Homo sapiens: one gene and its partner. The protein of the gene in region 2 purifies or fractionates together with the protein of the main gene of each other region. This does not show direct contact. Each region holds a gene or a part of one and is shown on either strand. Other genes may lie near its edges.

What was found. The genes of interacting proteins can lie anywhere in the genome.
Region 1: the proteins of KIFAP3 (region 2) and KIF3C purify together in Homo sapiens (co-immunoprecipitation; 4 studies listed by BioGRID and IntAct, with this or other methods). This does not show direct contact.

Annotation. Positions count from the first base shown.
Region 1 is NC_000002.12:25,925,489-25,930,500, forward strand, and holds the end of KIF3C (kinesin-like protein KIF3C), read right to left. Parts: intron 4,576-5,012; coding exon 4,467-4,575; intron 3,990-4,466; coding exon 3,817-3,989; intron 3,584-3,816; coding exon 3,490-3,583; 3' UTR 1,110-3,489; downstream 1-1,109.
Region 2 is NC_000001.11:170,071,042-170,079,508, forward strand, and holds the start of KIFAP3 (kinesin-associated protein 3), read right to left. Parts: upstream 3,655-8,467; 5' UTR 3,427-3,654; coding exon 3,395-3,426; intron 1-3,394. UniProt on the Homo sapiens protein: Involved in tethering the chromosomes to the spindle pole and in chromosome movement. Binds to the tail domain of the KIF3A/KIF3B heterodimer to form a heterotrimeric KIF3 complex and may regulate the membrane binding of this complex.

The sequences.
Region 1 (5,012 bases), on a different chromosome or scaffold from region 2:
GAGGGAAAATAGGTCCTGAGAAGAGAGGATAAGGGAAGCTAGTCTTTCTTTTCTTTTCGAGACAGTTTCACTCTTGTTGGCTAGGCTGGAGTGCAATGCCACAATCTCAGCTCACCTCAACTTCTGCCTCCTGTGTTCAAGCGATTCTCCTGCCTCAGCCTCCCGAGTAGCTGGGACTACAGGTGTGCACCACCATGCCTGGCTAATTTTTGTATTTTTAGTAAAGACAGAGTTTCACCATGTTGGCCAGGCTGGTCTCGAACTCCTGACCTCAGGGATCCACCTGCCTCAACCTCCCAAAGTGCTGGGATTACAGGCGTGAGCCACCGCACTCGGCCTAGACTTTCAAGTTATTGTAATTCAGCACCCATCAGGCCCAGGCACATCTGTGTGGTTTACATGCATTCTTTCCTCCTTTAACCCCTTTGGTGGATCAATGAGGGCATAGGGAGTATGACAGTGACAGCTAATCTGGACACCACTGAGGCAGTTCTGAAATCTGCCAGTTGCTCAGAATTAACTGGTTGGGGACGACCAGCCTAGAACACAAACAGCTGCTGCCATAGTCCCGGCACAGACTTCCGACTAGTGCCTGGGACCTGCTCCCCAGCCCTATTGGGCAAACAGATCTCCATTTATTAAGCAACCAGTTCTTTTCCAAAGTGCTGATAACTGCAGCTGGAATCCATATGCTCTTTTTATTTTTATTTTTTGGGATGGAGTCTTGCTCTGTCGCCCAGGCTAGAGTGCAGTGGCACAATCTCAGCTCACTACAAGCTCTGCCTCCAGGGTTCAAATGATTCTCCTGCCTCAGCCTCCAGAGTAGCTGAGATTACAGGTGTGTGCCACCACACCAGGCTAATTTTTGTATATGTAGTAGAGATGGGGTTTCACCATGTTGGCCAGGGTGGTCTCAAACTCCTGACCTCAGGTGATCTGCCTGCCTGGGCCTCCCAAAGTGCTGGGATTACAGGTGTGAGCCACCACGTCTGGCTGATATACTCTTGAGCCCCTACTGGAAAAACATGGAAGAGAGAGAAAGGAGAAAATGAAAAAGGGAGGGAGTTAAAGTAGGAAGAAACAAAGGGAAGAGAAGTAAGGCAGTCAACTCCGTGACGATACTCATTCCTTTATTGTCAACTGCATTGATTGGAACAGGGCTGGGGCCTGCAAGCTGCTGGCAGCACCCAGCTGCAGGTGCATTTCAGCTCAACAGAAAGGCCTCCATCCGAAGCCAAGGGGACAGAGGGGAATGTTTTATATATATATTTATATATTACATATGTCCCGTATAGTCATATGTGTAGAGTGACAAGAATGGGCCACTGCATTGTTAATTGTTGTCCTAAATAAAGACCATAGCAACACACGAGAATTTGGTCCTAATCAAGGCCCTTACTTTGTCAATCAAATATTTGATACACCAAAAGGAAAAGGAGAGAAAGAGAGACAGAGAGACTGAGATCCAGCCACTCCTGGTGGCCCTGTTCCCAGCAGATCTTACACTGAGTGTAGAGTGTCCCCTGTGGAGGTAAACACGCACACAAACACGCACACACATACACACATACACAAAACCGCAGGCAGGAGCTCCTCCTCCGACCATACCTCGGGCCCAGCCCTCGGACTGGGGGGGCTGATTTGGGTATATTGTGCTATAAGACTGTGAGGGAGGTGTGACAAGACAATGCAAAGGCGATGTGTCCAAGTGATGAATGAGGTGATACGTGCTGCTTTGTCCACAAACGAGAAAGAGGTCAGTGGGAGAGGCTGCTCAACGCAGCCCTGGAGGTCCCCCTGCGCTCAGGCCACCTGGTGAATTTCTACACACAACTCCTGTCCCAGCCACAGTCGAACCTCTGATCTGAATCCTGAGTCTCAAATAATCTCTTGGGCTCTGATGAAAATTGTGATTTCCTGGAAGGACAGGAGCAAATGGCAAGTGGGTGGCTCAACCCTCTAGTCCAGTAATGAAGCAGAAATGACAGTGTCGCTGAGTTAAATCAGACCCAAGCTTGATCCTCAGAGCAGAACTTGAATGATGTAAGAAGGGTTCATTTCCTGAAGGAAAGAGAATAACCCCCGCCACCACCTCCCACACCCCCCATTTCAGGCAGATCTGTCAGTCTCATGGTTTCACCCCAACGACAGCACTCTTCATATTCTAGGAACTGGAGACTCACACTATTAGGGCACTTTGAAATCCTAATTCACTCGCTTGCTTTCGTTATGACCTCTTCACCCGTCCTCCAAAATATACACTTAAAAAGCCAGTCAATGAACATTAACCATTTTTTTTTGTAGAAATTTACTTATCACTTGAGATACCTAGAGACATTTTGGGCCATCACAAAGGAAGGTAAGGAGTATCCCCCTAGGAACCAATTTGCGTAACTAGTGAATAAAGGATCTATTTTCAACAAAATAATACCTTAAAGATGCAATTCAGAAACAGGGGTAACAGGCAAAGCTGGAAAAGATTGTGCCTGGGCTTCTGTTTCCTGTGACAGATGAAGGGAAAAAGCAATAGATGTTAATATCTTCGTTTAGCGAGGGGTAGAATGACATTGACTCCTCCCACTGTGAACGGGGTCTAGGCAGCTGCAGGGAGAAATGATCGAAGCAGGCAGGAGCAGCCTCTTGAAAATGGGGAGTTGCCTTGAGAGCCTGTCGACCAAAATGACTCCTCGGAGGGGACAGAAACAAAGGAATCCAGTGGAGGGACTTCCGTTGATGACTGTTCAAGTTGTCTCAATTGCTGTTCCATTTCCTGCAGGTTCCAAGGCGATGGTAATTGCTTGGTCCACAGTTCCCATCCAAGGTGGGCAGAAAGCAGAGTTTGGGAAGCTGTGAGTTCTTGTCAAAGCTGAAGGGCATGAGCTATGTTGGTGAGGTTATTAATGTCCTTGAAAAGGAGCCCAAGAGGCTGAATGAGGTTGTCTGAGGCTCAGAAAGTGGAGAGTGGGGCTGTGTCCACGGGGAGCAGATGCCCAACACTGTCAGGATGTCTCTTGTCCTCAGGGAACACCAAGCAGTCTCCCAGTCCCAGAAAGTGCTCAGGGGCTGCTCGCCATCAGTGTGGGAGAAGATGGAGGTTATGGAGTGCGGTGGGTAGAAAAGGGACTGTCTTCTCAGGCACTGGCTACCTTCCCTTCTGGAGGCAGCTGACAGGGGGACAAGCCTGAGATCTGACTGGGGGAGCTCTCAAGTCAGAAGAAAAAGAGGCTACGCAGTGACCACGGTAGGCCCAGACGGCTCAGGCGAGGGCATCTCCCCAACACGAACAGAGCTCCGCGAATAAATAACATGAATTAAATAAAGGAGGCGAAGAAGAGCAGGCAGAGGCACCATCTGCCAGATTCTCACCCCTGCACACACGCACACGCACATGCACGCACACGCACACGCACCAAGCGGCAGATGAGATGAGCCAGGGTTGGCTGCCCCATCCCAGGAGTCTATTGGATGGGCAGCCTGACGTGATGGTTGTCACTCATGGTCCGCCACTGTTGCAGGGCGCAGAGAAGCAGAGGCCAGGGAGGCATGTGTGGTGGAAGGTGGAGGCCGCTGAGGACTCTGGCACCTGCAGGGGAGATGACGCAGGCGAAAGGGGAGGTTAGGGAAATACAGGAAACAGGAAAGTGGGTCCTCTCCTTTGCCCCATCCTGTTGCTGCAGGAATCCTTCTGACATCCCCAGTCACCCCTTGCCCTTCCTGCCCTTCGGGTACCAGCAAAACCCTCTTTAGCATCACCCAGCGCCTGCAGTTCCCCTGCCTCCTGGGTCCAGTGCTGCCTGGGACCATGGAGGTACTGACCAGGATCTGGACTTTCGGACTTTAGACGTGGAAGGTCTTTCCAGAAAGCTGTCCAATCGCATGAGCCTCTCCATGTGTAGCGCACGAGGGTCTTGTTCTTGGTCGTGAGAGAATTCCATCTCAAAGACAGCTGGAGGGGACACATCCAACTCCAGAAACATTATGTTTTCAGCCTGTGGTGGGAATATCATGCCAGGCTTGAACAGTGCCCAGTCACTGTGCCTTCTAGGGACTCAGCCAGTCTTGGGTGTAGCAGGGCTGATGAGGTGGTTAGGGGAAGCAGAGGCTGTGAGCATCCCCTCCCATAGGCTCTTTTTTTTTTTTCTTCTGAGATGGAGTCTCACTCTGTTGCCCAGGCTGGAGTGCAGTGGTGCAATCTCGGCTCACTGCAACCTCCACCTCCCAGGTTCAAGCAATTCTCCTGCCTCAGCCTCCCAAGTAGCTGGGACTATAGGCACCCATCACCACGCCTGGCTAATTTTTGTATTTTTAGTAGAGACAGGGGTTCACCATGTTAACCAGGCTGGTCTCGAACTCCTGACCTCAGGTGATCCACCTGCCTCGGCCTCCCACAGTGCTGGGATTACAGGTGTGAGACACCTCGCCCGGCCTCCCTCCCGTAGGCTCTTTCTCCCCTCTCCGCTTCTTACCCTGTACCTGGGGTGGGACCCCATTGCCATGGCAACCCGAGCATACTGGCTGATAGGCCTCTTGTAGCCCACTGCAGATGTTGGCCGCTTCTTCATCTGGCTGCTACTGCTGTAGGAAAGAGGCTATATTAGAAAGGATTTCTGTGGAACACAAACAGCAAATGACATCATGAGGACCTAAATATCATTCAGGTAGCTAGGAGGCCCTGCAGACTGCAAGTTCTGGAATTTTCTTCTCCTTGCTCTAATACAGCTTGACAACTGAAGCTAGTGCAGTTGTCCCCCTCATCCGTGGTTTCGCTTTCCACAGTCTCAGTTACTGTGGTCTGAAAATAGGCAAGTACAGTACAATCAGATGTTTCGAGAGACAGACACACCTGCATCACTTCTATTAGAGTATATTGTGTTTTTGTTGTTGTTTTGAGATGGAGTCTCACTCTGTCACCCACGCTGCAGTGCAGTGGCACAATCTCAGCTCGCTGCAGCCTCCACCTCCCAGGTTCAAGCAATTCTCCTGCGTCAGCCTCCCGAGTAGCTGGGATTACA
Region 2 (8,467 bases):
ATTTGATATCCACTAGTATAGTAATAATTACAGAACAGAAAATAACAGGTGTTAGTGAGGATACGGAAAACTGAATTCTTATACATTGCTGGTGGGAATGTAAAATGGTGCAGTCACTAGGGAAAACACTTTAGTGGTTCCTCAATGAATTAAACATAGAATTACCATATGGTCTGGCAATTCCAGGCCTAGGTATACACCAAAAGATACAAAACAAGTGTTCAAACAAAAACTTGTACAGTAATGTTCACAGCAGCTTTATTCCCAATAGCCAATAGGTAGAAACAACCCAAATGTCCACCACCAGATGAGCAATAAACAAACAAAATGTGGTATATCCATAAAATGGAATACTGAATTAGTCAATTTTATGTTGCTATAACACAATACCTGAGACTAGGTAATTTATAAGGAAAAGGGGTTTATTTAGCTTACAGTTCCGCAGGCTGGGAAGTTCAAGGGCATGACTCTGGCTTCCAGTGAGGGCTTTTGTGCTTCATTATAACACAGTGGACAAGATCAAAGGGGAAGTGAGAAAAGAGAATACCCAAGGGTCTTCCTGGCTTTATAACAACCAACTCTAGAGGGAACTAATCCATTCCCAAGAGAGCTAATCCAGTCTCACTAGAGCAAGAATTCACTCACTCCAGCAAGAACAGCACCAAGCCATTCATGAGGGATCCACCCCCAAAACTGAAACACCTCCCAGGCTCCAGCTCCCAACACTGCCACAATGGGGGACCAAGTTTTAACATGAGCTTTGGTGGAAACGAACTATATCCAAACCACAGCAAATATTATGCAGCTATATAAAGGAATGAAGTACTGATACATGCTACCACACAGATGGACCTTGATATACCATGTGAGAAATGCTTGACACAAAAGCCACACACTTTTTTCATATAGCACTCATAAATACAATAAATATCAGTATATTTTAAAGTCTGTATTACTTGCTAGAGTGTAAATGCCATGAAGGCAGGGAATATATTTATGTTTCATTTACCAAATATGTTTTATCACTTGGCTTAATGACTTTTACACAGTAGAATCTCAACTATTAAATGAATGAACAAATGTTGTTCACTTTTAATATCCTTCAATAGTTCACCAATGCACTCAAAATAAAGTCTCAACTCTTTACTAAAGCGCTTAAGTCCCATATGATTTGGCTCATATTTCTTTCTAGTCTTATTCTGACTTTACTTAATAATCTATGTTTCAGGCACCTTGCTGAGTGCTGGGAATACAATGGGAAGTAAGATAGACACATAGCACCTACCTTTATGAACTTTATAAACCAGAAGGAAATATAAAGTAGTAAGTTTAGGGAAAAACAAGGTATTAAGTATCATGAGACCCTAACAGGTATACCTGACCTGGATTGTGAGGTGGGAAAGGGAAGTTCAGGAAAGCTTTCTGGAAAAAGTGGTATTTATGTCAAAACAGGAAAGATGAGGAATTAGCGGGGCAAAGAACAGGGCAAGTTCCAGATAAAGGAAGGGCATGTAAGAATCAAACACCAAAACACATAGAGATTCAAAAAAAATTATTTTTGTAAAACCAAAATATGGAATTACTCAGGTAGGAAGGGACTGAAAATATACTGCTATCTGCTGTCTTGTTAAAAACAAAATATAAAAGTAAAAATATTGTTAAAGAATATATGTAATCATGGTCAAAAAACAATAATTAAAATTGAAGGTTCTATCAGACATCACAAATGTTTTCCATCAGGCCTGTATAAATACATGTCTCCTGTATGCTTCTAGTCTGAAAACAGACAATTCAAACTTTTTATTATTTATAGTAAAAATTAGATGAAATTGAGAAATGTATTTTTCAACCTTTTCAGACTCTAATCTCATTTTACTTCAAACATTACATTGACTGGCTTGGTTTTAATTTTGGAACTCTAGATAGTATGTATTTAAAAGCAAACAATAGGTTGAGAATTATAAGTCACAGTATGCCTCAGTGTCCATACTGGTACGATAATGTTAAGAAAAACTACCTCTGACACAAATATATTACATGAAAATCAGCTAATGGTATAACAGCGGCTCTTTGTTCCAGAACAATTTTGAATTTAAAGTTAAAAGGCAATTTATTTTCTTCTGTCACAAAATTTTTAACCAAGGTATTTTAAAAACCAACGTTAAGTAAAATTCAGTGAGGAAATAAACACTGATGTAGGCTTATATATTCATTTAAAAATTTTTACTGACAAAGTCTGGCTATTTGCCAGTTTCAGATATATTTACATAAAATAAAAAAGACAGTCAATATATGCCTGTCTTGCCAGGACAATAGAGTTGATTTATTTATTATACAATTGTTTGAATCCCTTCTATGAGTCTACTAACACTTGGAAGATCTTTCTGTGATGATGAGAGCTCAGCCAAGCCAGAATAAAAATATTCACTGCAAGTGTATTATGACTTGAAATAATACCACCACCTTACATTCATGTTTCATTTTTTAAAAGTATTTCATCTTTCGTCCTTGTATCTCTCAGAAGGTAACGCCTGTCCCATTTTCAGATGAGGAAACCGTGCCCAAAGGAATACATGCGACTTTTCCAGGGTATTTACTGAATCAGTACTGAATTAAAATTTTTTTCTATTGGATCACTGCTTACTCTTGGTTCAGTGGGAGGTATCTTTTTTTTTTTCCAAATCAGGAATGATCTGAGTATTTGCCAGCACCCAAATAATCCCAACAGACTACAATTTTTTTGAGTAACTGATACTATATTTAAAAGAAATTATGGCCTATTTTATTGTCATCAAACTTCTGAACAAACCTCTTAATAATTACTAAATGTCCTACAAAAATTATGTTGTATACATGGGAGTCAAATGGATGACATGGATGCGGAAAGCAGAAAGAGACTGGAAATCAACATCTCAATTCAGCCTTCCAAAAAGTAGAATCCACCACTTCTTTCCCCTTCATCATTTCAAAAGCCCATGGCAATGAACCCCAAACTGAGGCCTGAGGGCGGATGCACCAGACTTTATTCCCAGGCTCTCATGGGATTTATCTATTATGGGAAAATGGAGAGTCTGGGAAGAGGCGAAAAAAAAAACAAAAGACGCGGTTTACCTTGCCCTACCTCCCTCTCCCCCTGGAATAAGGTGATGTAGCGAAGAAACCATCTTTCAATGCTGTCAGGGCTCCGCCGAGTCAGGTCAAAGGACTTTGAAACCCCCCCAGAGCTCTCCTTTTTTCTCCACTTCACCTTTTCCCTCTCCTTTCGGTGACTTCTCTCCCTGCTTCCCATCCCGTCTGCTAAACTAGCGTTGCCCAGTGACATCTCACAGCCAACCCAAGAACATCTTCAGGGCCCTGGCAAGGAGGGTAGGACAGAGCCTTGGGGAGTCGTCACCTTTTGAGGTATCTGGCGTCCTCCCCTTGCATGGCGGCAGCGGCAGCGGCGTGGAGAGGATGGGGTATCTTGAGAGGCAGGCGCGGTTATTTCCGGGGACGGTGGCCAAAGTACCCTCACACCCAGAGGCGATGACAGTCCTGAGGCCTGCAAGGCGGGGCAGCAGCGGCGCTGTGGTTACCACGGTGAAGCCTCCAGCTCCTCCCACAGCTTCTGTGCCCCAAAACACTGGAGCGGCCCAGACCCGCCCAGAGTCGCCTAAGCCGGGCCGTCACGACGCATGCGCTTGCTCTGCACCTCTTGTATGCGCAGGCTCAGTCTGAGGCGGTGGCCTCAGAGTTTGACGCACCGGGGAGCCGAGCAGGGAAGTTTTGGTGCAGTTTTGAGCGTCCGTGTATAAGGAGTGGCTCCGTAGTCACCGCCCCCTTGAGGATGGGAATAGAAAGGGCTGTCAGGTCAGCTTGAAAGGAGAGAGGGGAATCCGATAACCTTTTAGTTAGCGAATGCTATACAGCAGTCCAGCTAATAAGGGAGGTTTCTATTTGGGGGCCTGAATGGCCCTGATTGCACTTACAAGCTCTAACTTATGGAGATAATCTGACCGTTGTACAAAATGGATATAACTTTGAAGGCGGCAAGTCTGTCACTTTGATGTCTTAAATCTAGAATACACCTCCCCCAACCAAAACAAACAAACAAACAAACAAACAACAGCAACAAAAAACAGTTCCTGAAATTCCAACTCCACCAATTATCCTGAACTCAAGGTATGTTTAGAATTGCTTCTTCTGAGGCAGGCAATTGTTAGCAGTGCAGGGCATAGGAAAGAAGGGTTCTTTTTTAACTGCATGTTCTCTGGTTTAAGATCTATTCCCATGGGTTCAGCTATTATGTCTATGCAAATGATATAGGTTCATTTATTTGGTAAATGTGAATTGAGGGCTGGCTGTGTGCCAAACACCAAACCAGGCTCTAGGGATGCAAAGAAAGCACCTCTACTCCCCCTGCTCACCTATAATCTTGTCACTTATTCACTGTCTTCTAGTCCTGTTTTCCCAGTTGCTTTGAGACGTGCACGTAGTTGCTCTGCTGCTTTTTTCAAATGTAGTACATTGATGCAATTATTGATTATCCGTTATGTGTAAAACACCATGTTAAGGCACTGCATGGTATATTAAATATAGAAATACAGTCCTTACCCAACAAAATATATTTTTATCTTCCCACCCATTCACACCAGCTACACTATTTCTGTAGATGTTATAGTCATTCTTTCATTCTGAAAGGGAAGAAAATTTGCAGCTAATTTTGACTCCTTCCTCTGTATCATGCCCTCTTACTAAAGTGTTACAAAATTCTATCTTTTCTTCCTTCAAGATATTCAGGTAGTCCAGTTTTTTTCTACATTCTTACTTCTACCAATAGTCTAATCACTTTATACCTAGAGTACTGCAATTCCTTCCTCATTGGACTTCCTATTTTTTGTTTTTCTAAATATTAATTCTGCAAACTAATGTAAAATTTTACAAATTATCATTTATAACACCTTTAATGGTAATATAGCAGGCTAGATTACTTTAAAATCTTCACAATACGTAAAATTGGAAGACCAAAATATACATTAAAATGCATAGATAATATAACAAGGATTTTTGGAATGTAAGTTAGCTCCTTGAGCTCAGAGAACTTATTTCGTTCACTTTTGCATTCAGCCCATAGTTGTCACTGAATAAAAATTTTGGTGTTGAAAAAATGCAAACCTGAGCTTGAAAAAACAATAGCAACAACAACAACAAAAAAACCTAAAGAAAATGCCCAGAGGCCAGAAAGAAAGAGAGAGCTGGAAACCAGAGCAATAAATAGATAGCTGAAACTGGGACTGAACTAGATAAACTGTCTGTCTGTGGCAGGAAAAGTACAAGATGAGCCTGGAACATTTTATGCTTGACAGTAAGGACATAGTCAGAGACTAAGAAGATAAGATTATGTAAAAAGGACACTGGTGAATTTGAGGCAATTTGGGAATCAAATGGAATTACTGGGATTGATTTAAGACATTAAATAAATAAAAAAAAGAAATCCATAATGATACTCAACAACATAGAAAAACAGGGAAAAAAGAACCCCACTTCCACTGGAGGCAACTACTGCATCAGATCTTTACTCTGAAAGCTGGTAATTAAAAGAAAGAAGGATTTAATCTAATGCTTTTGGAAATAAACCAGATTTCACCTCCTTTTAACAAGGAAAAGCTCTTCTTAACAGAAAATACCTGGTAGGAATGGAGAAAAATAATGATAGTTACTATTTTGCAAGCACCAATAAACAATGGATTCAAATAAGCCCTATTAATTTACTTTAAAATAATTTAAAGTGAGGCAAAGTTTTACCCCGCATATTTCTTTATAATTCTAAAGGAAAAGAAATGTTACTTTACAATGAGGAGATCTAGCTGTCAGCATTTTAAACAGACAAGCAAACAGCATCATTAGTGAGAGGTGAACCCAGCTGGACTTCTGGGTCGGGTGGGGACTTGGAGAACTTTTCTGTCTAGCTAGAGGGTTGTAAATGCACCAATCAGCACTCTGGGTCTAGCTAAAGGATTGTAAATGCACCAATCAGCACTCTGTACAAACGCACCAATTAGTGCTCTGTGTCTAGCTAAAGGATTGTAAACGCACCAATCAGCACTCTGTAAAAATGCACCAATCAACGCCCTGTGTCTAGCTAAAGGATTGTAAATGCACCAATCAGCACTCTGTAACACCAATCAGCAGGATGTGGGCGGGGCCAAACAAGGGAATAAAATGTCAGATTATTTTGTAAAGTTGAATAGGCACATACTCTAAATCTCAGCAATTCTACTCCTAGTTCTATACTTCATAAAATTGTTCCAAAATCATTGGAGAAGTATTGAGCTTAGTAGAAAATGAAAAACAGAAAGACAATAACAAAATACTTTTGCAGGAGAATGAATGAATACATTTGAAATATTCACACAATACAATAATATGCAGCAGAGAAAGTTGATGAACTAGAACTTTACATATGACATGGATGAATATTAGAAACATGATACTGAGTGAAAAATTGTGGCAGATTAAATACAGCATGATGCTTTATTTAAATTGCACTATAATTTAAAAACAATAACATGCATTCTTCTTGGCCTACAGTTCTCTAAGTTTTGAAAAACTCTTAAGTCATATAATTACCTGCACAATCATAGAGCAGTTCTGTCATCCTCTAAAATTCCTTTGTATCCTTTGGAGTCGCCTTATCCCCACAACCCCAGGCTCTGGTAAATACTGATCTGTTTTCTGTTCCTATAATTTTGCCTTTTCCAGAACGTCATCTGAATGTAATGATAGGCGCTGTAGCCTTTTGAATCTGGTTTCTTTCATTTAGCACAATGCATTTGAAGACAATCCATTTTGTTTTTCGGTCCTGTTTTTTTTTTTATTGTTAAGTACTATTCCATGGTATGAATGTACCATAGTTTATTCATTCACCAGTTGAAAGACATTTGAGTTGCTTCTAGCTTTTGGCAACTATGAATAAAGCTACTAAAAATATTTACATACAGATTTTTGTGTTAGTTAGTATTCTTTACTCCTGTTCAGTTATCTAAGAATAGGTTTACTTAGTTGTATGGTAAATATATGAATGACTGTACAAAACCACCAAACTGTTTTCCAAAATGAATGCCGTTCTGCATTTCTACCAACAATGTATGAGTTCAGATTTAGTCACATCCTTTCCAGCACTTGGTATTTTGTTTTTTTTTTAAATTTGTCTGTTTACTCTCATCATTCTAATAAGTGTGCAGGGCTATCTCACTTGATTTTAATTGAATTTCCCTGATTATTAATGGTATGAGCATATTTTCATATGTTTAATTACCATTTCTATACCATTTTTGAATTCTCTTCAAATTTTTTGTCCATTTTTAATTTATATTTTTGCCAGACTGATAAACTGAGCACAGAGATATCAACAGTTAAGTAGATAAAGAGGACAAATTACTAATATCTGAAATGAAAGAAGGGACATCATTCAGATTCTACAGGTATAAAAATGATAATTTGAAAATTATGAACAACTTTATACTAATAAATTTAATGACTTAAATGAAATAAGCAAATACCTTGAATGATATTTATTAAGATGGTGACAAGAACAAAGAGAAAATGTTAAAGCTCTTTATCTCTTAAAGACATTGAATACCTAATGACAATATTTCCCACAAAATACACTTCAGACACAAATAGCTTCACTTATGCATTCTACCAAGCAAGTAATTAAGATAATGTCAATTTAGATACTTTCTGAAAATATAAAATGAAAGCATATCTACCAATTAATTTTAAAAGGTCAGCATTATCCTGATATCAAAATTAGAAAATGGTATTACAAAATAAGAGCTACAAATATCCTTAGTGAACATATGTGCAAAACTCTTTAACAAAATATTAGCAAATCAAACCAGCATACATAAAAAGAATGCTATGACCAAATGGGGTTTATCCCAGGAATGCAAGGTTGGTTTAATACATGAAAATCCAATAATTAATTTGCCATATTGCTATATAGTTTGCATACTTGACCCTCCAAACCTTATGTTAAAGTTTGATCTCCAATGTTGGAGACAGGGCCTAATGGGAGATGTTTGGGTGATGCAGACAGATCCCTCATGGATGACTTTATACTGTCCTTGTGGTAATTAGTGAGTTCTTGCTCTATTAGTTCCTGTGAGAGCTGGTTGACAAAAAGAGCCTAGCACCTCCCCCACCTCTTGCCTCCTATCTTGCCATGTGATCACTGCACATGCTGGCTCCCTTTCCCCGTCCATCTTGAATGGAAGCAGCCTGAAGCCCTCACCAGAAGCAGATACTGGCCCCCTACTTCTTGTACAGCCTGAAGAACAATGAACCAAATAAACTTTCTTTATAAATTACATAATCTCAGGTATTCCTTTATAGCAACACATATGAACAAAGACACATATTAACAATATAAAGGTAAAAAATCATATGGTCATCTCAACAGAAGCAGAAAATTAATATAATGGAA